Linked DNA regions of Homo sapiens: all the other regions are reported to be linked to region 2. Evidence: microRNA targets listed by miRTarBase, many of them from high-throughput screens and not tested one by one. Region 2 holds a microRNA gene; each other region holds the end of a gene's coding sequence.

Region 1 (4,109 bases), not on the chromosome of region 2:
CCAGGACTCGCTCTCTTCTGCCCAGAATTTCCCAGCCTCCTGTCCTTGTCACCACTAGTGTTATGATTGGCAAAATTATAATAAAATCTGTAGATTAGTTAATAGTATCATGCCAATGCTAGTTTCTTCGTAATTGTTTCTAGTTTTAGGTAATTGTTCTATGGATTTTTAAAATATTAACACTAGAGAAAGCTTATAGAGGAATTTTATGTGTACTATTTTACAAAGTCTAAAAGCACTACAAAATAAAATTTTAAATGGAAAGTCAGACGCACTAAATTTGAAAAGAAAAAAATGATCAATTCTTGATAATTTTTATAAGCTAAATTAATTTTAGCTGAAGCACTAAAATGTTATAATCCAACTTACCCATTGAGTTTTTCAAAGTGGATTATCTTTCATCTATTTTTGATTACTCATATGTGCTGTAAAAGTTAGTGTTTATTGGACTTTACTGAAAAAAAAGCTGAAGGAGCCTGGGGGAAAAGAACATTACATTTCAAATTAACATCTAATATTATTTCCTTAAAATATTTTACTATTACAATAAACTGAGATAAATTAAACACATCCCACACTTTTTTATCAGATAGTTTACAAATAAACCATCTGTAAAATGTATCCTACTTATATAAATCTTATATATTAATCTGTCATATGTAGAAACTTGTGTAAGAGAATTTCCCTAATATATATTTCATAATACATGTGGTTTGTATTGAATTAAAAACATCTGTTGAGATACAAGAAATCACTGGATTAAATTATTAATACATTCACCAAGTTCAAAAGCATACTAATTTCCCTTTCCCATCCATAAAATATGCTTATGTTCACAGAGATAAGGCAAGTTTCAAACCTGTGTCATTTAATAAGCTCAAACACGACAATTTTGTATAAACATTCTGATTTAATAAATGGTATGAATATATATTTTGCATACTTTACAATAAAGAAAATTTTGAAAGAAAATGGATCTAAAACTTTGTTTCCCTCCAATTTACATAGTAAAGTCAACTGCATACAGTTCTTTCCATGTGTAAGTTTTACATTTGTATTTTCTACAATTAAGTAAATCTAAATGTTAAATTTTAACACATATATCCAATTATGTACACAATTACAATGTCAATTTATAAGTCAAGCTTACTTAACAATCATAAATTACAAAAAACGCACTATGAATAATTTTGTTCTAGAAGTATCACATCAACTCATATGATCTAGGTGAACCCAAAAGTAAAAAATAATGATTATAAATTATGGTAGTGTCTGTAAAACCCTGTTATAAAGGAGGTATTCTTTTAAAATATGTACCTTATATATAAAAGCTCCTGACTCCTTTTAAGGACCAAAATTATTTTCAGTCTAACCATTTTCATTAAAGCGCTTATTTAAAAAGTATCACCTTATAAAACTGAGTATATAAAATACAATGCAGCCCTTGATAGCTAAGAATCTTTATAAACGCCAATGATTTAGTGACCTGTTTATCAAACTATTTCTATGGATGGGTTGATTTTTTTTCTTCCTCTAAATTAAGTGGCCCTAGACTAATATATTTGTTCAGTTATTCTGTTTTCTTCCTTACTGCCATTTCACATCTCCATCAGTGAGTTCCTCAGGATTTGCCTTTATGTTACAACTATGAAAGTCTTCAATCCAATTCCCTGCTTCCACACAAAGGACAAAGAAAGCCTAAACTTTCCTTTTCCTTTTTTCTGGGCTCCAATAGGAAGCAGCATTTACAACGTGTCTGGCTTGGTGGGAGGAAGATTGTCAATTGAGGTATCATGTGTGTTCACCTGCCTCTCTTGCCCTATTTCTTTGGTTGCTATAAATTTCCTGCTTCTCAAATATCTGGATTTTTGGCTACCTATTTGGCTTCCGTCTTTGGTGTTTATATCTGTCTGGTTTTAGCAGGTCTCTCTGATTCCTGACCCACAGCTCCTCTCCTTCTCTAATATTCAAGTATGCTGCTTCCCTAACTCCTCATTCCTTCTCCTTGAATTTCACTTTACAATTGCGCTAGGTTCTAACATCGTTGGCCATAGATTACCACAAAACATAATTTCTTAAATTCTGCAAATTTCTAATGTTTCTAATCTTGGTTTCCTACAAGATCTAACACTAAGCTTGTGTTATCCTGATTACAGTGTATATAAAACAATGCTTGTGGAAAATTAACCTAGGAGAAAGCTTATAGGGGAAACCTGATGATGAATTTTATTAAATTAATAACCCTTATAACAATTTCAAATGTAATACTATCTGGATTTGAACTTCAATACTTTTCCTAAGTAAAATTCTTAACCATGGTAGAAGTTATGTTTGTTGATGTTCACTCATCTATACCCTCCATATTCTCAGCAAAGTTGGCATAAATCTGACCTGAATAAACAGGGTTATAACATTATCAGGCTTGTAAAATACTTTATCAAATCAATGCATCAGTTAAAGCAGGGGTCCCCAGCCCTGGGCTGTGTGTGGCCTGTTAGGAATCGGGCCACACAGTTGGTGAGCTGAGAGGCAGGTGAGTGAGCATTACTGCCTGAGCTCCACCTCTTGTTAGATCAGTAGTGGCATTAGATTCTCATAGGAGTGCACACTCCATTGGGAACTGCACATGCAAGGGATCTAGGTTGCACTCTCCTTATGAGAATCTAACTAATGCCTGATGGTCTGAGGTGGAGCAGTTTCATCTCAAAACCATACCTTCTTCCCCCATGGAAAAATTGTCTTCCACAAAAATGGTCCCTGATGCAAAAAAGGTTGGGGACTGCTGAGTTAAAGGGTAGGGTTTAATATTCTAATTAAACAATAATAATAGATGACTACACTATGCAAGGCACTGTCTTAGGTGCTATGAGTAATGTGTTAAGTGGTTGGCTTTTCAAATAGGAAAAATTAAAGGTATATAAGTATTGATCAATAGTTTCATGTTTAGTTGGCATTTTTCTTTACTGACTGGTACTTTCCTCTGAAATATATGCAATTGAATAATATTATCACAGAATCATAAATGTGTTAAAAATTGTAATATCAACAAATTACCTCCTGGAATTCTTGAGTTAAAGTGAAAATATGTGTATACAATGCTGATGTTTCTGTATTCACTATATACTAAGACACAAGGATGATAACTAACATATTCTAATAGTTCAATAATTTGCTTGGAGAAAGGCCAGGCTAGTATACATAAATTTAAAAACAAATTACATGGTAAACCTGGTTTTAAATTCATAGGCTTTCAATAATAATTCCCGGAAATCATCACACAACTTTGATTAGTTTAAATTTTTATACCATAAATGTTCTAAGCTCAAAATATTGACAATGAAAATTAAAATTAAACAAGTTGTAATGGGGATAGAAACAACATTTTTTTTAAATGTAAATTTTTCTAATTGTGGGCCTTTTTTCTTGTTATTGCTTGAGGATTTCATACCTAGACAATGGGAATAGGAAATAAGTGTGTATGTGTGCGTGTGTGTGTGTGTGTGTGTGTTCGTGTGTGTGTGTGTGTGTGTGCTCGTGTGTGTGTGTGCTGTGTTTTGAGGCTTTACGTGGGCTTTGAAGGCACAGGTCTGTTTCTTGCATAAAACAAAAACTACATAAGTAAAAAAATACATTTGATTATAAAAACATCAATTTTGTAAATATGATTGTCCATATTGGATAGATAATCCTGCCATGGCAATGTGTGTTCTTAAAAATCGAGGTAAATTTTCCAGGTGTAAAACAGTCTTCTCTTTTCCCATTTCACCCTTCTTTTACTATTTTGTTGAGATCCTGTTCTGCTAAAACATTAGTCACAACTGCATTCTCTTTATGAAATGACACATCTGTGGCTGATGGAGGTGGTTTATACAAAAAGATTGCAAATCCATTGAAGAACATGGTGATAACTTTACAAGTAACACCTAAGTGAAAAAAAAAATTAATCATGTGCTTTTGTTTTTAATTATGATAAAAATTATCACTGAGAAAAATCTTCATGAATAGAACATTTTTAAAGAGAATAATTACATAACCATTATAGTTCTATGTTTAAAATTTTTGAAACATTAAGGGGAAAGAAAAAACATTTGTATACAATTCAAGTCACT
Region 2 (4,109 bases):
TTGTGCCACTGCACCCCAGCCTGGACAACAAAGTGAAACAAAGTGAAACTCTGTCAAAAAAAAAAAAAAAAAAGTGTTGGCACAGAGTCAGGAAGTATACCTACTTAGCCATTTGGAGCTGGGAGTGGTATCTAGGAATTTCTCCTTCTAGTTTTTACCTTCTTAGTTTTACTTTATAAACAGGATTGAGACAAGAGAATCTTGTTACAGTTTTTAATTCACCAAGACCCATTGCCACATCAGGGTAATGCCACATCAGGCCCTTTTGGTATGGCCTTAGGGAATGTTTTTTTTTTTTTTGATCTGAAGTCTTGCTCTGTCGCCCAGGCTGGAGTGCAGTGGTGCGATCTCAGCTCACCGCAACCTCTGCCTCCCAGGTATAAGCGATTCTCCTGCCTCAGCCTCCTGAGTAGCTGGGATTACAGGCGTCTGCTACCATGCCTGGCTAAGTTTTGTAATTTTGGTAGAGACAGGGTTTCACCATGTTGGCCAGGCTGGAAGGATTTATTTTTAAGTAGACAATGAAGAACTTTTTAGTGATCTCAGTCAGCTTCTTTTTTTTTTTGAGGCGGTCTCACTCTTTTGTGTAGGCTGGAGTGCAGTAGCGCAATTGTAGCTCACTACAGCCTTGAACTCCCAAGCTCAAGCGATCCTCCTGCCTCAGCTTCCTGAGTAGCTGAGACTACAGGTGCATGCCACCATGCCTGGCTAATTTTTGTTTTTTTTAAGTTCTTGCAGAGACAGGGTCTCACTGTGTTGCCCAGGTTGGTCTTGAACTCCTGGCTCTAGTGATCTCCTGCCTCAGCTTCCAAAAGTGCTAGGATTACAGGCATGAGCCACTGCGCCTGGCCTCCATATTCTTATTTGTGCTCTTTCAGCTCTGTAGATGGCATCCTGTAATTCCCTCCATAGAGGCTTCTTGGTTTTTTCCCCTAAATGAATCAAATAATTCATTATAGTTTCCAAGTATCCTCTCTACCTTCCCCAAACATATTCTCCCAGTCTTCTGGTGGCTTACTAAGATCTTACCCCAAAGAGTTCTCTTACTATATACATTGTGAACAGACTTAATTCACTTATTTTTCAGGGCCCATCTCTACTAGTTTGTCCTACAAGACACACAAATAGAGAGCTTTTGCCGGGTGCGGTGGCTCACGCCTGTAATCCCAGCACTTTGGGAGGCCGAGGCGGGCGGATCACGAGGTCAGGAGATTGAGACCATCCTGGCTACAGTGAAACCCCATCCCTACTAAAAATACAAAAAATTAGCCGGGCATGGTGGCAGGTGCGTGTAGTCCCAGCTACTCGGGAGGCTGAAGCAGGAGAGCTTGAACCAGGAGGCGGAGCTTGCAGTGAGCTGAGATCGTGCCACTGCACTCCAGCCTGGGCGACAGAGCGAGACTCCGTCTCAAAAAAAAAAAAGCTCTTATCCAGAGCTGCCTTTGAAAAATATTTTTGCTTATGACTGTAATCCTGTGGAAGCTGCAGGTCACCGAGAAGGCCCACAGGGGGCAGCACTAGGAATGACTCTTTCCCTCTAGTCCTCTATGCGCTAGGGGAGAGAGTTCTTGGAGATGTTGATGCTTTTCACCAGGCTTTAGAAGCCCCTGATTGAGGCCGGGCACGGTGGCTCACGCCTGTAATCCCAGCACTTTGGGAGGCCGAGGCAGGCAGATCATGAGGTCAGGAGTTCGAGACCAGCCTGGCCAATTTGGTGAAACCCCGTCTCTACTAAAAATACAAAAATTAGCTGGGCATGGGGGTGTGTGCCTGTAGTCCCAGCTACCCGGGAGGCTGAGGCACAAGAATCACTTGAATCCGGGAGGTGGAGGTTGTAGTGAGCGGAGTTTGCTCCACTGCACTCCAGCCTGGGTGACAGAGAGAGACTGTCGCAAAAAAAAAAAAAAAAAAAAAAAAAGAAGCCCCTGAGATCAAAGATTCATTTGCAGCAGCCTAGTTGCTTGTTCTGTGGTGTTTCACCTGTCTTGAGGACAGCATTCTTGTTTTCTTGATAATAAAAACATAAATACATGAAAATCTGTCTAAGTCACCCAATCTCCCACAAAACAATCTGCCTATACATCATTTCCAAGCACGATTAGCATTTGAGGTGAAGTTCTGTTATACACTCAGGCTGTGGCTCTCTGAAAGTCAGTGCATCACAGAACTTTGTCTCGAAAGCTTTCTAGCAGCTACCCATTTTGGGAGTGGGAGGGAAGAATAGACCTTTTAAATTCTTTCAGTGTGGCCCTAAGCTGATAAGGTCTTTCTCAACAGTCAGCATTTAATGTGTTACAAGGTCAAGCCTAGTCCATTGTCCTGGAAGCCCATTTCTCAGTAGCTGGGAGTTATTTATAAACTTGCCCTTTGCAAAAACTTAAAATGAAATTACATTATCAGTAATGACTTCTGGGGCCTTTAAACTGGCTAGTTTTATGGCATAGCCCTCCCCACTCCTGAGAGGTAAAAGCCCCAGGCTGAAGTGGAACCAGCTGCAGTCAGGAGGTGGCAGGAGAAGTAAAGAAGCTGCTGGCTCCAGCTGTAGCAGAATGGAGAATTGAAGCGGCATTTAAGCGCCTGCCTAAATTCTCAGCTTTATTTAGTATGCTTCCTCCTTTGGAAGTTTGAAATGACCAGCCTTTTCTGTAATGCCTTCTTTCCCTTTTGAGAGCTCCAGTAAGCTCTATGTCAAATCTAGTCTTTATCCTTGTCCTCCTTAGCCTGTCTTTTATTCTTCCCAGGAAGATCCAATGTTTCTATTTTTGGGGTTTCTTTGATAATGTCTTCTAGGAAGCCAGTGAAAAGAACCAAGAGCAGAACCCAGGGATATGTTCTCTCTTTGCCGGTGTGGCTGTTGTAGGCACTCACACCCTGTTGGCCACAAAGGACATTGTCTGACTCTCCCAGTTGGCTGGGGGCCATTAGGGCTTTGCTTTTCTTTGGGTTCTAGGGATGCCAAACTCTATGGCTGCAAGAACCAGTTTCCTATGCCAGGTTAATGCCCAGCTTAAACTAATGGGCAGCTCTCTAAAGTTGCTGTGAATGTGGATAGAGGAACAGAGCCAAAGATTTCCAGGAAAAGGTTGTGGGAAAAAATGATTTCGTCTAAATTTTGTTCCTTTTGGACTTCTTTTCTTCCATTAAGAAAACTCATTCCCATTGTTGTCTCCCTTTTGGAATTGAGGACCCAAGTTGTTATAGAACTGAGCCTGCTTTACAGGAAGATCTTTCTGTGAGGAATTAGGAGTTAGGAGAGCTGCTTCTACTTGTGACCTTTTAAGACTAGACTCTAGAGGACTTCCCTCCACTAGGCAACAAAGTTCTTTAGTTTGAGAGAGGAGTTACTCATGCCTTGTTTATTCCAGAGTGTTATATATACAGGATGGACATCTCTAAGGAGTGTTTATCAGAGGAGGGATAAAGTTGGTAGTAATATCACCCAAAGTGGCCACATCAGAAAATCCACTTATATGTGGAGGTCTAATTATAAGTAGTCCCTTAGATGCATACTGCGTCAAGGTATTTTAACTTTATTCTCAAACTTCCTTTATTCTCTGAATTATTCACCAAATATTGAGAGTTTAGTATGTGTCAGGCATTGTTCTGGACAAATGGGACAAACCAGCGAACAAAACAAAAATTGCAGTCCTCAAGAATTCAAGTAGGGAAAGCTTATGTTCCTCATCACCTTGTTGTCAAAAGACTGGGTTCCTTTTACTTCCATTCTGAACTGCCCTCCTCTGCCCCCGCAAACAGGGTTGATTCTTTGCATGGAACCATAAACCTCCTGAAGCCTCATGAGGCAATTTATGTTTGTAGAGGCTGCAGTTTCTGGGTTCTTGGCAATGATTTTTTCCTCCTCACTCTTGGATATCTGTCAAACACATACTTTTGTGTTTGGCTCCTGTGAGGACTGTGGGTTTCTTAAATAAGGCCAGGAAAGAGGTAGCAAAGCAACAGCCTTGTCTCAGCACAAGGGATATCAATGGTAAGTAATGTTGATTAGAAAGTCAAGGAATGTAGGTCGGGCGCAGTGGCTCACACTTGCACTTTGGGAGGCCTAGGTGGGAGGATTGTTTGAGCCTAGGAGTTCAAGACCAGCCTGAACA
Region 3 (4,000 bases), not on the chromosome of region 2:
CGGGTCAAGGGCCCACTCCCAGTGTTGAAGCTCCAGCCGGAGGCGCTGGAGCCCATCTACTCTCTGGAGCTGCGCTTCCGTGTGGAAGGACAGCTGTATGCACCCCTGGAGGCTGTCCATGTGCCCTGCCTGTGTCCTGGCCGCCCTGCCCGCCCTCTGCTCCTGCCTCTGCAGCCCCGATGCCCGGCCCCCGCACGGCTGGATGTCCATGCCCTTTACACCACATCCACTGGTCTCACGTGCCATGCCCACTTGCCACCCCTGTTCGTGAACTTTGCCGACCTCTTTCTGCCTTTCCCGCAGCCTCCAGAGGGGGCCGGGCTGGGCTTCTTTGAGGAGCTCTGGGATTCCTGCCTGCCAGAGGGTGCTGAGAGTCGTGTGTGGTGTCCACTTGGGCCACAGGGCCTGGAGGGCTTGGTGTCCCGCCACCTGGAGCCTTTTGTGGTGGTGGCCCAGCCTCCTACCAGCTACTGTGTAGCAATCCACCTGCCCCCGGACTCAAAGCTGCTGCTGCGGCTGGAGGCGGCCCTGGCAGATGGAGTGCCTGTGGCCCTGCGGACCGATGACTGGGCCGTGCTGCCCCTGGCGGGGGACTACCTCCGTGGGCTGGCGGCTGCTGTCTGAGCCCCGGGAGACCAGGTGGGGGCAGGACTGTGGCCCTTGTGGGGGCCAAGGCACACTCCTGTAGCTCTGTCGCCAAAACCCTGCATTCCGCAGTGCCCTCGCTGGCTTGTTTTCTTTTGGGCCCCGGTTGGGAGCAGGCTCCTGGGGGTGAGGGTCTGTCTGAGTCTGTTTTTGCTGCTCTAGCAAGATCCCTGAGACGGGGTAAGTTATAATAAACAGAAATGTATTGGCTCAGAGCTCTGGAGGCTGGGAAGTCCATAGTGGAGGGCCCAGAGCCCAGTGAGGACCCTTCTGCATCTTCCCATGACAGAGGACAGAGTGACAGGAGTGAGGGGAGAGAGCGAACCCACTCCCAAGATAACGGCCTGAGTCCACGCAGGAGGGCAGAGCCCTCGTGGCCTGACCACCTCTTAGGGTCTAATCTTATACTGTTACAGTGGCAATCGCATTTCAACGTGAGCGTGGGAGGGGACAAACATTCAAACCATAGCAGGGTCATAGGCCCCAAGAAGGCTTCCAGACAGAACCCGGCACTGTAGAGCTACAGAGTTCCTTCTCACCCAGACACACTAGTGCTCTCCAGAATCTCTGCCCAGGAGGCAGGGGAAAAATCTCCTTTCTGCTTCCCAGAGAGGGTCTGGCCTTGCCCAAGGCCACTCAGTGATTTAGGAAGAAGGCTGAAGCTAGAGTGTGGACCTGACCTGTTGGACAGTACTTTTCTTTCTTTTTTTTTCGGGGAGGGGTTAAAGACAGGATCTCACTCTGGCGCTCTGGAGTGCAGTGGTGTGATTAGGGATCATTGCAGACTCTGCCTCTCAGGCTCAGGTGATCCTCCCATCTCAGCCTGCCTCCGAGTAGCTGGGACTACAGGTGTGAGTCACCACTGTATTTTTTGCAGACAGGATCTCCCTGTTTCCTAGGCTGGTCTCGAACTCCTGGGCTTAAATGACTCTTCTGCCTCAGCCTCACCAAAGTGTTGGGATTACTGGTGTGAGCCCCCACACCTGGCCGAGCCAGCGCTTCTCAACTCCCAAGGTTTGCAAGCTCCCTGCCCCAGGGAGCTCACGCCAGGCAGGCCAGTGGGCCTAAGCCAGAAACAGAAAGACAGCAGTGGCCAGGTGGAGAGCTTCCCAAGCTGTGCCGATTAGAGCCAGCTCTAGGAAGGGCCTGCTAATAAGGTCTAGGGTCTGAGACCAAGTTTTTTCTAATCTCAGCCCCTAAGAAACCTAATTTGTGCTTAGGAATCTTCCCAGGTAAGAAGAACTAGTTCCTCTAGTTGTTGTTTTTTTTTCCCAAACATGCAAACACTGAGGATTGAGCTGTGTGGGGTCAGCTGTGCTGCCAGGCACATGTACGTTGCCTCATTTCATCCTTGCAACAGCTCTGCAGGGCCCCGCAGATGAGGAAATCCGTAGGCAGGAGCGGTTGAGTGATTTTCCTAAGGTCACCCAGCTGTTTGGTAATAGTGTTTTGTCATCTGGTAGCAGGTTTCCATTACCATGCCATCAGAGCAGACCTCAGCCAGGGCCACAGAGGTCCCAACCGTCTCTGCCCTCTTCTGCTGCCCCTGCCTCATGGGCTCCCAGCCACAGGTTCCCCATGGGCCAGCTTTACGCCTCCTGATCCTTCCGATTGGGGCAGACTAGGAGAGGAAAGACGGGCCTGGGCTGGGTGCGGTGGCTCATGCCTGTAATCCCAGCACTTTGAGAGGCTGCGGCGGGTGGATCACCTGAGGCCAGGTGTTTGAGATCAGCCTGGCCAGCATGGCGAAACCCTGTGTCTAATAAAAATACAAAAATTAGCCGGGCGTGGTGGCGGGCGCCTGTAATCCCAGCTACTTGGGAGGCTGAGGCAGGAGAATTACTTGAACCTGGGAGGCAGAAGTTGCAGTGAGCCGAGATCACGCCACTGCACTCCAGCCTGGGCGACAGAGCAAGGCTCTGTCTCAAAAAAAGAAAAAAAAGAAAGGGCCTGGGACAGTGGTACTGTTAATAGGTGGAGTCAGGAGGCCTGTCTCAAACTTGAGATGTGGCAATAACTTGCTTTGTCACCTCGGCAAGTCATTTCCAAATCAGGAAGGGGTCAGTTTCAGGAAACAGAAACTTCTCCAGCTGTTTTTGGCAGAAGGGGATTTAAGGGAATCAGGGTACTTAAAGTACATGGGAAGGCTGGAGAAGTCGCCTCCAGGAAGCTCCCACTGGAGCTGGGATCAGAACGTACTGTCCTGCCTGCCATCCCCTGTAAGCACCCAGGAAGCTGGGCTTGGGCCCTGGGACATGGGGTGGGACTGCCACTCCTGCCTCCTGACACCCACAAAGCCAGAAGCGTGGTGCTGCTGCAGAAGGACTGAACATCTCCAAGGCTGGGCCCGCAGAGCAAACTTCCTTGGCCCTGTGTCCTCCATCCATATCCTTCAAAGGACACCTCATTAGTGGACTCCATTTCTCTCTTCCACGGAACTCCAGTGGCAAGGGAATCCAGAAACGTTTTCTTTTTGCCTGGAGATGCTAATCCTTAGCCTAAGAATAAGGAAACTGGTCCATGTAAGGACTGACCATCCTTTCACCCATCTGTCTGCCCACTTGTGCATCCATCCCATTTTATCCATCCATTCCTCCAGTTGTGGACACCAGATGACTTTCAGCTCCCCCTACCCCAACCAGAACTTTGCTGCAATGGCCATTCTTATATGCCCCTATGGACCCATGGGACAATTCTCTGGGATACATGCTAGGAGCAGAATTGCTGAATCATAGGGAATGCATGTGCTTAGCTTGGCTAAGCAATGTTGGAGTAAAAGCTTTTGGTTTTGCATCTTCTCAGCACTTCTAGGGAGGCACCAAAAGGGAGGATGGCACTGACTGAGCCCACCTGAGATAGCTCCTAGACCCCAGCCCTCTGTGTCCTCAGAATCACACACTGCTGCTCATCACTTCAGCTTCCCGAAGATCATGGCAATAGCAGCATGCCTGTAACTGTCCCAAGTACAACCAAAAATTCTTCCTAAAGAGAGGGAACCAAAGTCACACGGGTCACCTTGTCCACCTGTGTGGACGTTGCTCATGTTCACATACCCTTCCTTGCCTCCTTCAAGGCAGGTCTGGCCACAAGCCCAGCTCTGGCTAATGAAATGTGAAGGGAGTCAAGGGCCGGGGGCGGTGGCTCACACCTGTAATCCCAGCATTTTGGGAGGCCGAGGTGGGTTGATTACCTGAGGTGAAGAATTTGAGACCAGCCTGGCCAACATGGTGAAACCCGTCTCTACTAAAAATCCAAAAATTAGCCGGGTGTGGTGGCGTGCTCATAATCCCAGCTACTCAGGAGGCTGAGGCAGGAGAATCGCTTGAACCCGGGAGGTGGAGGTTGCAGTGAACTG
Region 4 (4,109 bases), not on the chromosome of region 2:
AATAGGTTGACCGCACATTTCTTCTTTTAAAAAAATAAATAAATAAAATAATTTATTTATTTATTTAATGTAGAGACAGGGTCTCCCTATATTGCCCAGGCTGGTCCCGAACTCCTGGGCTCAAGTGATTTTCCTGACTTGGCCTCCCAAAGGGCTGGGATTACAGGTATGGGCCACCACACCCAGCCATTGACTACACATTTCTACCCTGTGGGTGCCTCAGGGGGTTGGCACTTCTGGCCAAGAATTTGAGTCTGGTCTGGGTATTTCCTAGATTTGCAAACTGGCACCCACTGCTGGTAAATGCAAATGTTCACTCCCAAGAATGAGAGTTGGGAAATTTGTTCATTTCCATCCCAGTTAGGTACATCAGGTACAGAAATAATGAAGTTATCTTAATTAAAAGAACACAACTGGACTACAAAGTGGTTGCACAGCACCCCAGGGATAGAAAAATCCAGCCCTGCTGGCAGTTTCTCTATGAACAACTCAAGCCTTTTGTCCATCTTGTGCATTTTGAATCTGAGGGCAAAACCGGTAATCTTCTTTCAGGGTCTGGGGACCTATGATCAGAATACATTTTGCTCTGTTAAGACTCAGTCTTGGGCAAAAGGAAAAATTTCTAACATAGGAAAGGATCAAGCAGTGGTTTTACATGCAGTCTTCACAGTACAGGGGCTATGTAAATTGTCATTTGTGTTTTAAAATGTGGATATGTAGACTGAGCGTGGTGGCTCATGCCTGTAATTCTAGCACTTTGGGAGACCCAGGCAGAAGAATCATCTGAGGCCAAGAATTTGAGACCAGCATAGACAACATAGCAAGACCCCATCTATAAAAAAGTCAAAATGTAGATATGTAAATATACACTTATATTTTAGCATATACATATAGCCTGGTATATACATATACCTTTTTTTCTGGAAGTATACACAAGAAATATTATTTTTTCATGGAAGGACTAAAGGATATGGGAAGGAAACTTCACTACCTATTTTATACCCTTCTATATTTCACTTTTACCATAGATATTTATTACTTTTTAAAATTAACAGGTTATTTTGATGGAATATTTAAATTTTGGAATGTTCAGATATTGTGAAATATTTAAATTTTCCTTATAGGTTTTTAATGTTAAAACTGAATATTATCTAAAAGAATAAAAAAAAGTTTCCAAAAGTGTTTTAGTTACCACATTAAAGAATAAAGACAAAAGTAGAGAAAGTACCAGAAATTTTTATAAATTTCCAAAATTTTATGAAAATAAAAGATTTGAGTCTCAGCCTCCTGAGTAGCTGGGACTACAGGCACATGGCATCATGCCCAGCTAATTTTTTATATTTTTTGTAGAGATGGGGTCTCACCGTGTTGCCCAGGCTGGTCTTGAACTCCTGGACTCAAGAGATCCACCGCCTTGGCCTCCCAAAGTGCTGGGATTACAGGCGTGAGCCACCATGCCCAGCCAAATTTATATTTTATATGTATTATTTTTTAATGAATTAAGTATAAATGGGACTCCTTGGTATTTGTTATTCATTTACTGATTCAACAAATATTTATCAAGTATGTACCACATTCCATTAAAGGAGCTAAATGCCTGAATTCAAAAATACATAAAACACAGTGCTTGCCTTCAATGCAATCACAATCCAGTGCCTTTACTTTGCAGAAAGGATGATGTCATCTCCTCAGGGAACTCCTTTTATTGTCTTCCTCGGCACTTTACAGTCAGAACATAAATTAATATTAAAATCAGAATCAAGAGAATATGTTTTTCCCTGTATCCTATATTCTTATAATTAATTATAGGCCATCTTAGTAGTTATTTTAATGTAGAAGCTAAAGTAAGAGACTAGTTAGGCCGGGTGGCTCACGCCTGTAGTCCCAGCACTTTGGGAGACTGAGACAGGTGAATTGCTTGAGCTCAAGAGTTCGAGACCAGCCTGGGCAACATGGTGAAACCCTGTCTCTACTAAAAATACAAAAATTAGCCCGGCATGGTGGCACATGCCTGTAGTCCCAGCTACTCAGGAGAGGTGAGGTGGGAGGATTGCTTGAGCCCAGGAAGTCAAGTTTGCAGTCAGCCATGATCACACCACTACACTGCAGCCTGGGCAACAGAGCAAGACCCTGTCTCAAAAAATAAAAAATAAAAATAAAGAGACTAGTTAATTCATCTGAGCAGTTACCTTAAAAATACATATTTACTTAGGAAATAGTAGGAATTTTTTTAAAAAAGAAAAATACCTATTTACAAACAAGATAAATAAACAAAATGTTTCCAGAATTCTATTCTGATACTCAAACACACAAGACACTCACTGGTAGGCAAGTTAGCTATTATTTTTATTATTCACATACAATCATTTGCCAAAATCCCTTGCCAACTTCAGAAGAATTCTCAAAAACTGACTCTGTGGTGCATCACTAAAGAAATCTCATAAATGCTTCTAAAATCTTGATTTCTTAGCCTTTTTCCATCACTAAAGCCTACCATTAAATTGCAGTCATCTAAAAAAGAATAGAGTGGCCAGGTGCAATGGCTCACACATGTAATCCCAGCACTTTGGGAGGCGGATCACAAGGTCAGGAGTTCAAGACCTGCCTGGCCAGCATAGTGAATTCCCATCTGTACCAAAAATACAAAAATTATCTGGGCATGGTAGCAAGCACCTGTAATCCTAGCTACTCGGGAGGCTAAGGCAGGAGAATTGTTTGATCCCAGGAGGCAGAGGTTGCAGTGAGCCGAGATCGCACCACTGCACGCCAGCCTAGGTGACGGAGCAAGACTCCATGTCCAAAAAAAAAAGAAAAAAAGAGTAGAGCCCAGGAATAGACTCTACATAAGCAACAATCTAGGTTTTAATCCTTGCTGTTTATTGTCTCCAAAATACATTTAAAAGTGAATTAATTAAAAATACTTTTAATGTTATTCAAAAGGATAACACCAATTGAAAAACCTCATGTGAGTATAAAATCAACAGCTGATTCGAAATGGCACATGGAAAATGTGTAGCCTTTCATCATGAAAAATGTCTAACCTTGTGATAGCACCAGAGTTGCAATCCTTTGCAAAGGATTCTGTTAACATATTTAATATTCCATGATAAATAAGGATCTGTGGTAGTTGACAAGCTTAAAGGAGAGCAAATGTGTAGATGACATACTTCCTAAGGTTCTTATCAGCTCTGAATTCTATAACAAGACAGAAATATTTGGTATAGTTCATCCTATTATTTTTGCTGTTGTTCATTCTCATTCCATCATGATTATAATTGTGTGACTTTATTATTGTGAGTTCCCTAAAATTTGCTAACTCCTTTCTCTAGCCACTTGTACCTAAAGGTTTACACTTTCTTTTTAGGGTCTCATTTTCTATACTGAATGGCCCCATGGCCACAATGAAGAAAGTCACCCTCACACTCTTAAATAATCACATCATTTTTATTGGCTTTGGTTTTTATACTTTTAAATGTATAACCATTCTAAGTAGCTAAGAAAACTGTTCATGGCTTAGCAGTTTTGCAGAACAATATAATCAAGAACACAGAAACATCCTTCTCATGGTTCCAACAGTCTCTCTATAACCACACTCCTTACAGAAAACATGTAAATGTAGAAAGATAAGATACATAACCACAAGCTTCACTACCATTTTTGTCTCCTCTATGATAACACACTGTGTCGGTTCACTCTTCTATCTATGTGGCTGCTGAAAGGTCCACCACTTCTCCTGTTTCTTCTTCTTTGGTTTCAGCCCCTTCACTCACTTTCTCATTCTCCATGTCTGTTTCCACCTTTTCCCCTGTCTCACCTGGAAAAGTAACCAAAGGAGATACTAAGAGACATTTATTTAGAATTAACATAAATTATCCCACAGTTTGTCTCCAATGGGGGCAGTTCTTGATCTTCAGGTCTAAGCAGTAAGTTTCTCTGGGGGTATCAAGAAAAGTAATCATCTCAGCTGGGCACCGTGGCTAACACCTGTAATCCAACACATTGGGAGGCCAAGGAAGGCGGATTGCCTGAGGTCAGGAGTTCAGGAGCCTAGCCCAAAGTAATGAAACCCCGTCTCTACTAAAAATACAAAAATTAGCTAGGCATGGTGG
Region 5 (4,109 bases), not on the chromosome of region 2:
GAGAATACATTTCCCCATGACAGCCTTCGCCCCCATCGTCTCTGCTGACAAAGCCTACCATGAGCAGTTCTCTGTGTCAGACATCACCACTGCCTGCTTTGAGTCCTCCAACCAGCTGGTCAAGTGTGATCCTCGGCTTGGGAAGTACATGGCCTGCTGCCTACTCTATAGAGGGGATGTGGTCCCCAAGGAAGTGAATGCAGCAATCGCAGCCACGAAGTCGAGGCACTCTGTTCAGTTTGTAGATTGGTGTCCAACTGGTTTCAAGGTGGGCATCAACAATCGGCCGCCCACGGTGATGCCGGGTGGGGACCTGGCCAAAGTCCACCGGTCCATCTGCATGCTGAGCAACACCACGGCGATTGTGGAGGCCTGGGCCCGCCTGGACCACAAGTTTGACCTCATGTACGCCAAGAGAGCATTTCTGCACTGGTACCTCAGAGAAGGCATGGAAGAAGCAGAGTTCTTGGAGGCCAGGGAAGATCTGGCAGCCCTGGAGAGGGACTATGAGGAAGTGGCGCAAAGTTTCTGAGGCATGTATGATGGGTGCAAATGAATGTCAAGTTAAAATGGCATGTTTTCTTTTCAAGCCGTTATATGCCTAGTGGGTAGTTCCCCTGATGAGCAGAAAAATGAACTCAAATCAGGCAAGACTCTAGGTTCCACACTAAATTAAGTGGGTCAGTACCAACAATGAACACATTATTTCCTGGTCTACTGGTACAAGTCAGCTCTGCTACCTGGGAGCCTTTGGAAGCTTAGAGTCCTTTGAACTGCTGAGTCACTTCTAGGTGGGATTTTTTTGTTTTACCAAGAGACAATGAAATCCTGAAGTTTATGCTTTTCCTTTCTGGTACCGGAAGTAGAAAACAGCACATGTTGATTACGAATGTTTTTTCCCCCATGTCTACATTTTTTACACTGATTAAATCATAAATATTTTCAGTATGATTCTTATTCTTCTTTGAAATGTGTGCCCAAAGGGCTCAGTTTGCTTTTTATGTAAACAAATTTGGGTCTTTCTAAAACTTGAATTTGGGTGTCCTGCACGTCAGAGGTGAGAGCCGTCTCTTCCACTTCCCTTTCCTGGAGGTGGTGTTCTCAAAGTGTCGCCCGCTTAACTCTGTGCCAGAGTCACTTCAGAAGTTTAGTAAAAATGCAGATCGTTGAGCTTCTCTATTGACTTGCTAAGCTAGAATCCTGGGGGCTGGAGGGCCTGTGTCCTAAGGAGTTGAGATATACAAAAACACTAAATGGAATTAATTTTTGCCACCGAATAGTTCCATTTGAGAAAATAATTTACTCTGGACAAAGCTATAAATGCATTAAAACCACTAGTGAGATTTTAAATAACCACAATATTTTGTCTCACTAATACTTGGAATTAAGGCAACTTAGATGCTGCAAAGGTACTGAGTTGGGCTGAGGTGTTGCTCTTGGACTGATGGTAGATAATCCTCAGGAGCCTCATCCACCTGCACTGTTTAACCTGTCAGCCCTCACCCTTCAGCTATACTCTTGGCCTCAACCGGGTACATGCTTTTGGCTCAGGTAGACATCGGAAGATAGGAGGCACTAAAGCCTTGGCTGGAGGCATGAAGTTGTGTATCTGTTTTGAGATTCCTCAAACTACAAGGCTACTACCTTCTTGCTTGTGCAACTGGACTCAAAAATGAATGCTCTGTATTGTTTTTTTTTTTTGGTAAGATCTATTTTTTGAGTATTTATAGGTTCTCAGCAACATTGAGTGGAAAGTATAACCCTCCATTTCTAACAGTTTCTTGGGAGATTCTTTTACATACTAAAATCACTCCCCTGAGATGTGGCCTTTAAGAGTGGTACTCAAACAATGTACCATTTTGCCTGCTTTCAGTTGAAACCATTCTCACCACGGAAGCCAATGACCACTGTTTGGTGGAAATGATATTTAGCTACTCTTCAATGCCAGTAAGGATTTTTTTTTTTTCCCAGCACAGACAACTATCGCTGAGTTTTTGCTCAGTCGCCAAGTCTCTAAGTATCTGGCTGTGTCCCCTTTGGACTCCACTTCCAAGCTTCTCTGCCAAGGGCTCAACTTCTGTTCACATGAAAACAACCTCATAGCAGGGTTGTGTTTGGAGCCTGTTAATTGAGATGTGCCAGGATTCCTGGTATAGTAACAGGGAAAGGAACATGACTGTCATTCTCATGTCTCTGACTTGATGGGATCAAACATTTGGAGGAAAGTAAGTTAAAAAAATTATTTTGTCCAAACAAAAGGAATGATTTGGTGAACTTTAGTGTGTCTTCACTATATCCAACATAGACCAACAATATCTAGAATTGGCTCTTTATTGAAGTGTGGAAGAAAACTGTTACTGAGCAAAAGGGCTTGCTGCCTAATGTGCTAGAAGCCAACAGTGTCACATTGCGTTTTTGAGAAAAGAAAGGCTTTTATTGTGAATTGACCAACAAGAAGATAGAAATTCAGCTCAAATCTGTCTCCCTGTGCTGGGTCTAAGACAGTATTTTTATTAGAAAAGCTTTAGTGGCTAGGTTCTGGGATTAGTAGGTGATTGGTGGAAGTAAAGGAAAGGTCTGGAAGGTCTTCATGCTTCCTCATGGGTTATTTCCTCATGCTTCCTCATGGGACGCATGTACAAAATGAGGAGACGTTAGTATGAAACATGGTAGAAGTTGCGGCTGCTACATCAGCAAGCTCATTCTGCACAGACTCTGGTTGGCCATATTGGTTCAAACCAATTTCAGCTAGTTAAAAAAATATCTTATAAGCAGAGGTAGTTTCAGCATTTTATCAAGTTCTTTCTTTTCTTATCTGCCATCCTGAAAACTCAATAATTTCTGTTAGTCATTGGTTTCTTCAACTCTTTGGAGCACAGTTTCAAAACCTTGTTCAATGGAAAGAATCTATACTATTATTATCATTGTTTTAAATAATGGATGTTGGCTTAGATTTAGCCTCCTAGTTTAGTTCTCTGGCACTCTTCATTCCTTCTTGCATTACTATGCTTCCATCTGGGATTATTTCCCTTTTGACAAAATAACTCATTTTAGCAATCTTTTAATGTAGATCTGCCAGCAGACAATCCTCTCTATTTTTATTTTTCTCTAAACATGTCTAGGTTACCTTCATCTTTAAATGATATTTTCTCTGGGTATAGAATTCTAGGTTGACAGTTACTTTGTTTCAGCATTTTGAAATACGCCATTCCATAGTTTTCTGGCTTTCATTATTTCTATTGAAAAGTCAGCTGTTGATCTTATTGTATCCTGGAAAGTAGTGTTTTTTGTTTTGTTTTGTTTTGTTTTTCCTTTGGTGATTTAACAGTGATGTGCTTGGGTGTGTTTTTATTATGTTCATCCTACTTGAACTTTTTAGAGCTATTAGAATCTGTGGCTTGATGTCTCCTATCAGTTTTGGAAGATGCTTGGCCAATAGTTCTTCAAATATCATTTGAGTTTTCTTTCCTTTCCTTATGTGACTTAGACTACACATATAATTCCTTTACATTGTCCCAAATGTTGCATGCACTTTTTTAAAAAAATATGTTTTATCTTTTTTCTACCTCTCTACTTCCAACTATATATTTTCTACCTTACATAAGCTTTGGAAAATACTATGTGGAAATAATTTGATCTGTTCTATTAAACCCCAAAGACATTTCAGTTATGTTTGTTGGTAGTTGTTAGATCTTTCTTTTTCATTGAAAATCCAATTGAACAGATACAGATCCATGTAATTTATGAATAATTCTATTACTGAATATTTTGCATACAGGCAAAAGTCCATTTTTTAGTAGAGTTTAAAGTAGCTATACTTTTGACAATTTATTCCAATGATAGTTGTAAAAACTATGAAGAGTTGATAAGAATGTTTGTGCTTGGCAAGACAGAAGCCCAGGGACATGAAATAACCTGCTTAATGTTATAAGTCCATAGGATGCATTAAAGCAATGAATTAAATATTGTTTTATAAATTCTATGTAACTTTCAGGGCCTTAGTTCTATTTATCTTTGGGCATTACAAATTCTCTATATTGTTTTTATTTTCATTCTTTTCTTATTTCTTCTATGACACTCTTTCAAGAGAGCAGAGCATTATTCTTAAT
Region 6 (4,106 bases), not on the chromosome of region 2:
AGTGTTACGATGGGTGAGTGTGAATATGAGCACACAGGAGTGGCACAAATCTTTATGTTAGACCAGATAAAGTCTAACCTTGTTTTACCTTTTGATATCAACTCAACTCTATGCATGATCTCAAATTATGTAATTATGTTTTACAGGCAACAAACAGGCATTTCCCACAAACTGTTACAGGGGCATATTTGAGTGGCGTTCGAGAAGCAAGCAAGATTGCAGCATTTTAAGAATTCGGTGGACCCAGCTTTCTTCTGTACCCCAGATGGGGAAATTTGAATCACATGTTAAACCTCAGTTTTATAAGAGGGGGAAAAAACCGTCTCTACATAGTAAAACTGAAATGTTTCTAAGGCGATATGATAATGCAAACCTATTTCATCACTCTAAAAGCACTGACCTCAAAAAACCTTATAAGCACTTAGATTTAATTGCATTTTCCATAGGTTCAACTACTGCTGAAAGTCTGGATTTCAGAATAAAGCAGAATGTAAGTTTCAGTTGAGGCCATGGATTTGATTGTTCCATGGCTGGAAGTTCCCTTTAGATTTCACATTTTATATGGCTGATCAATTTTCATACATTGAGAAACCAAGTCAATCAAGCAGGAATCATTTAAAAACCAGATAAAGCCATGTTTTTCTTCTGTGACAATTTATCAGTATCTTTACCAATGAGCCTTAATTTTTATATAGGTCCAATATTGAGCTTTTACTTAAAATTTAGATAGAACTTTTTTTTGGATACAGCACAAACTCCAGTTGACAGTAAAATGAAGCTTCTAGGTATTTTGTATTGTACATATTTCCTCCTACTGGGTGTTCAAAAGAAATTTAAATTCAAGTACCTTTTGTGATAAAATGTTTTAGATTTGTGCACCCATTGGCAAAACAGGAAAGTTTCCAGATAGGTATTGTATCATTGAGAATGCAGCACAGATAGTGTGGGCTTCACACTATAGACACAGAATATAGCTTTTTCTTAAAGCCAAATTTGGGTGATAGGACACTTTAAATATCCTTAATTTTGGCAACCACTAGCAAAAAAACTTGTCAGAATAATTTAACCAAGCCCCTCTCCACTTCTTTTATTTAAAAGCACTGATTCAATTGCTAGGAATATTTTTGCAGATTTTTCTTTACAGTATTCCATAGGCAGGTCCACTGGAAAACTGCAGAAAAATGTGAGCTCTCCTGGTAAATAGTATACATTTTATAAGCTATATTTTAAAGGCCTAAGAACATGGCAAGTATTTACTTTTATCTTTTTTTTAAAAACACTCATGACAGAAAACAGTTTAATAATATCTCATTCTAAAATAAAACACTGGTTGCAGGGTCTTCAGGATGCCTATTTTGCCAAGAAACTTCAGTATACAGGTTAGAAATATGCTTTTGTTTTTGAACAATAATATACTGGTTTGCTTTAAAGAAGGGACTAAATATGACTTTAAAGAGACTTCAAAATATTGAGTATTTTAAAAATTTAAAAGTAGGTCAGTTTATAACGAGTAAATACCTAACACACCAAGAATGTGCAGTGAACCTCAGGCATTTAAGACACCTCCCCCACCGCCCGCCCCCCGCCCCCCCCAATCAAAGTGTGGTCCCAAAACAAGCCAACAGCTGTATATCTCAAAAGTTAACCCAAGACAACTCTGATATTTAGGTTATTTGTTGAGACTCATTGGTACTGACTGGCAAGTATTCTGCTTTAAAGTATCATGTATTAAAATGTTTAGACAGCATGTGTTTTAAAGTGATAAATGCAAAATGTTAAGTTTGAAATGGTTAACAGTAAATTATTATGTTAGTTTCCAGGCACTTGAACTGTGCTACAAGTAGGGGAAAACCTACTTTAAAGTATGGTAAATGTGTGTTTTAAACTTCCTATCAAGTGACATACTTCATTTGATTTTTTGTTTAAGAAGCCATGGTACTTTTTTCTTGAGTTACTTTGGATATGTTTTTTCAATGCCATCTGAAGATTTTGTAATTGAGTAGCAGTAAATATACAGATTTACAATGTTTTAACTACAGTTCATGAATAGCTGGTTGTGTAAAACTAATAAAAAACTAGACTTTCACATGTACTCTGTACTGTAGTGGTGATACATCCATTTAATAAGTGTGCGTACTCATCAAGAACTTTCATACAGAACAACTCCATTTCCTCACTTCCAAATACTCTATGCATGACTACTTACCTTCTTTATAGCAAATGGTCATAAAATTAACCTTAATTATTCAGTTTTGTGAAGTCACTCCAAGAAAATGGTCCATTACCACAAAAGAGTATTCCAAATTGTATAGGTTATAGGGCTGAATCAATTTAAAAATCCCTTTTCAGAATTATTCCCCATAAGGAAATGCTATATACACCTATAAGATATCAAATGCAAGTGACTTAAAACACCAGTGATTTAGATTTATTTTTATTGACAAGGTTTATAAGAACAAATATTTAAAATCGAAGGCCAATTATTAGGTCTCATTTAGTTGCTTATTTTGTTCACTTGTATTTACCTTTCCCTAGTGTCTGAGTAACTATCAAGAAACAAACCTGTGAAAATACCTGTTAACATTCAACATATATTTTTATATATTTCTGTTCTATGATGCAAAGATATTTTTCAACACTTAATTGGTGCAACAAATGTGTCATTGTGTCATAAACAGCATGTTTTAAAATTCAGATTTAATAAACTGATTTAAGACAGTAAATTTGAAAGACAAAATTAAGTCTCATTCAGGAGTGGTCCATTATGTTGATCATCTAGAATCAACACTGATTAACCAAACTCTGAAAGCCAAGAGCCCCAACTCCAGAGAAACATTAAATTTCTTTAATGTAAAAGTATATTATTTTTGAGACACACTTTGTCAGAGACATCCACGATTGCCTGCACATTATATTCTGGCATTATAATCTGGTACTTTAGTCATAATCGTGAAGCTGGCTAGGTTTCCAGTAAATATCAGCATTTTATATGGGCAAAAGCAGTTAATAAAAATCAGTTCATTTACTGTAAGCCAAATGTGCTTGTACTTAATCCCACCCTTTCCCAAAGTTTTTGAAGCTTTGATAGGTTGATTTTTGGTCTGTCCTTATATAATATAAAACGTACCTACAGACACTTTTACAGAGTTAATACTAAAATTACAAATTGATGACACTTTCGAGGCAAAGCAGGGTAACTGTTCCTTCAGTGTTGCCATCACTGAATTGACTTTCACTGTTCCATCATACTGTTTGGCTGAACACTGACATTCCATAGTCTACAACTATAAAGATACCTACCTATGTGAGTTTAAAAAGTGATCTGCACAAAAGAAATAAAAAAACTTTATATACAACCAATTGTTTTTTAAAAATACAAAAATAACATCTGTCACTTTTGTCATGCTGACAATTTGACATATATACACATGCAGGAGAAAAGTTCCAATTCAGTGATCTGGACAACTGTAGCTTGTATATTTTTAATATGATGGACACACTGCCGCTGAATTTTCACACTGACAGAGATGTGTATTCAAAATATTTCATATACTAAATACTACAATCTCTGTATGTATAAATCCTGGTGATAATAGTTTTTGTTCTACTTGATTAAAAGTATGCCTTAAGCAAGCTAATATTAAGTGCACTAAAAACCACAACAGCTCAAGAATCTATGACCTTATATAAAGAAATCCAAAATGTACAAAATACAACTATAAAAGCAAGGAACAATTAATGCCATGCAAGATTTTAAACTAAAAATGGCATAGAAATGCAATTTAAAACAGCAAACTCAAATTCACATAACACTCAAGATAAAAAGGTCAGCAGTAAGTTCTACTAACGTTGCTTAACAAGGATTTAGAAAAGGAAATACATTCTCTTTGCTGGTATAATGGTATAAATCAGATCTTCAAATCTATGGGAACGAGTCATCTTCTCTGTCCTCTATCTCAAGAAATTAGCTGTAATGAAAGAGAAACATTATTTTGCCATAAATCATAAACCTTTATCCCATTTTTTCCACATCTATTTTACTATTTTGTCCTTCAAAAATCAGTTGAGATCAATACAGAATTACAGCTACCTGCTGATCTTCCCCT

Evidence for each region. Region 2 holds the annotated microRNA hsa-miR-148b-3p (UCAGUGCAUCACAGAACUUUGU, at 2,152-2,173, shown strand). A microRNA usually pairs through its seed, bases 2 to 8, with sites in the 3' UTR of a target mRNA and lowers its output. Matches are read on the target gene's strand: a 7mer-m8 pairs with bases 2 to 8, a 7mer-A1 pairs with bases 2 to 7 and ends in A, and an 8mer does both.
Region 1: the mRNA of SLCO4C1 is a reported target of hsa-miR-148b-3p. The part of its 3' UTR that is shown has no 7-base or 8-base seed match.
Region 3: miRTarBase lists AP5B1 as a target of hsa-miR-148b-3p. Seed matches in the 3' UTR shown: 7mer-A1 at 3,479-3,485.
Region 4: the mRNA of ERICH5 is a reported target of hsa-miR-148b-3p. The part of its 3' UTR that is shown has no 7-base or 8-base seed match.
Region 5: the mRNA of TUBAL3 is a reported target of hsa-miR-148b-3p. The part of its 3' UTR that is shown has no 7-base or 8-base seed match.
Region 6: the mRNA of KDM1B is a reported target of hsa-miR-148b-3p. Seed matches in the 3' UTR shown: 7mer-A1 at 393-399 and 7mer-A1 at 1,098-1,104.

Annotation. Positions count from the first base shown.
Region 1 is chr5:102,233,096-102,237,204 of GRCh38, forward strand. It overlaps SLCO4C1 (solute carrier organic anion transporter family member 4C1), which reads right to left. Exons shown (of 13, transcript NM_180991.5): 13 at 891-3,923. The coding sequence ends at 3,763. Among named protein-coding and RNA genes, the nearest start is that of SLCO4C1, 61 kb to the right of the region's middle.
Region 2 is chr12:54,335,127-54,339,235 of GRCh38, forward strand. MIR148B (microRNA 148b) reads left to right here and starts at 2,090; the gene lies at 2,090-2,188. The region is part of intron 1 of COPZ1 (coat protein complex I subunit zeta 1); the gene reads left to right.
Region 3 is chr11:65,774,480-65,778,479 of GRCh38, reverse strand. AP5B1 (adaptor related protein complex 5 subunit beta 1) reads left to right here. Exons shown (of 2, transcript NM_138368.5): 2 at 1-4,000. The coding sequence ends at 624. Among named protein-coding and RNA genes, the nearest start is that of AP5B1, 4.5 kb to the left of the region's middle. RefSeq lists an enhancer at 231-1,135.
Region 4 is chr8:98,092,926-98,097,034 of GRCh38, reverse strand. ERICH5 (glutamate rich 5) reads right to left here. Exons shown (of 3, transcript NM_173549.3): 3 at 3,426-3,814. The coding sequence ends at 3,702. Among named protein-coding and RNA genes, the nearest start is that of RIDA, 22 kb to the left of the region's middle.
Region 5 is chr10:5,389,940-5,394,048 of GRCh38, reverse strand. It overlaps TUBAL3 (tubulin alpha like 3), which reads left to right. Exons shown (of 4, transcript NM_024803.3): 4 at 1-948. The coding sequence ends at 532. Among named protein-coding and RNA genes, the nearest start is that of TUBAL3, 13 kb to the left of the region's middle.
Region 6 is chr6:18,221,763-18,225,868 of GRCh38, forward strand. KDM1B (lysine demethylase 1B) reads left to right here. Exons shown (of 22, transcript NM_001364614.2): 22 at 147-2,092. The coding sequence ends at 230. It overlaps DEK (DEK proto-oncogene), which reads right to left. Exons shown (of 11, transcript NM_003472.4): 11 at 2,098-3,968. The coding sequence ends at 3,957. Among named protein-coding and RNA genes, the nearest start is that of DEK, 41 kb to the right of the region's middle.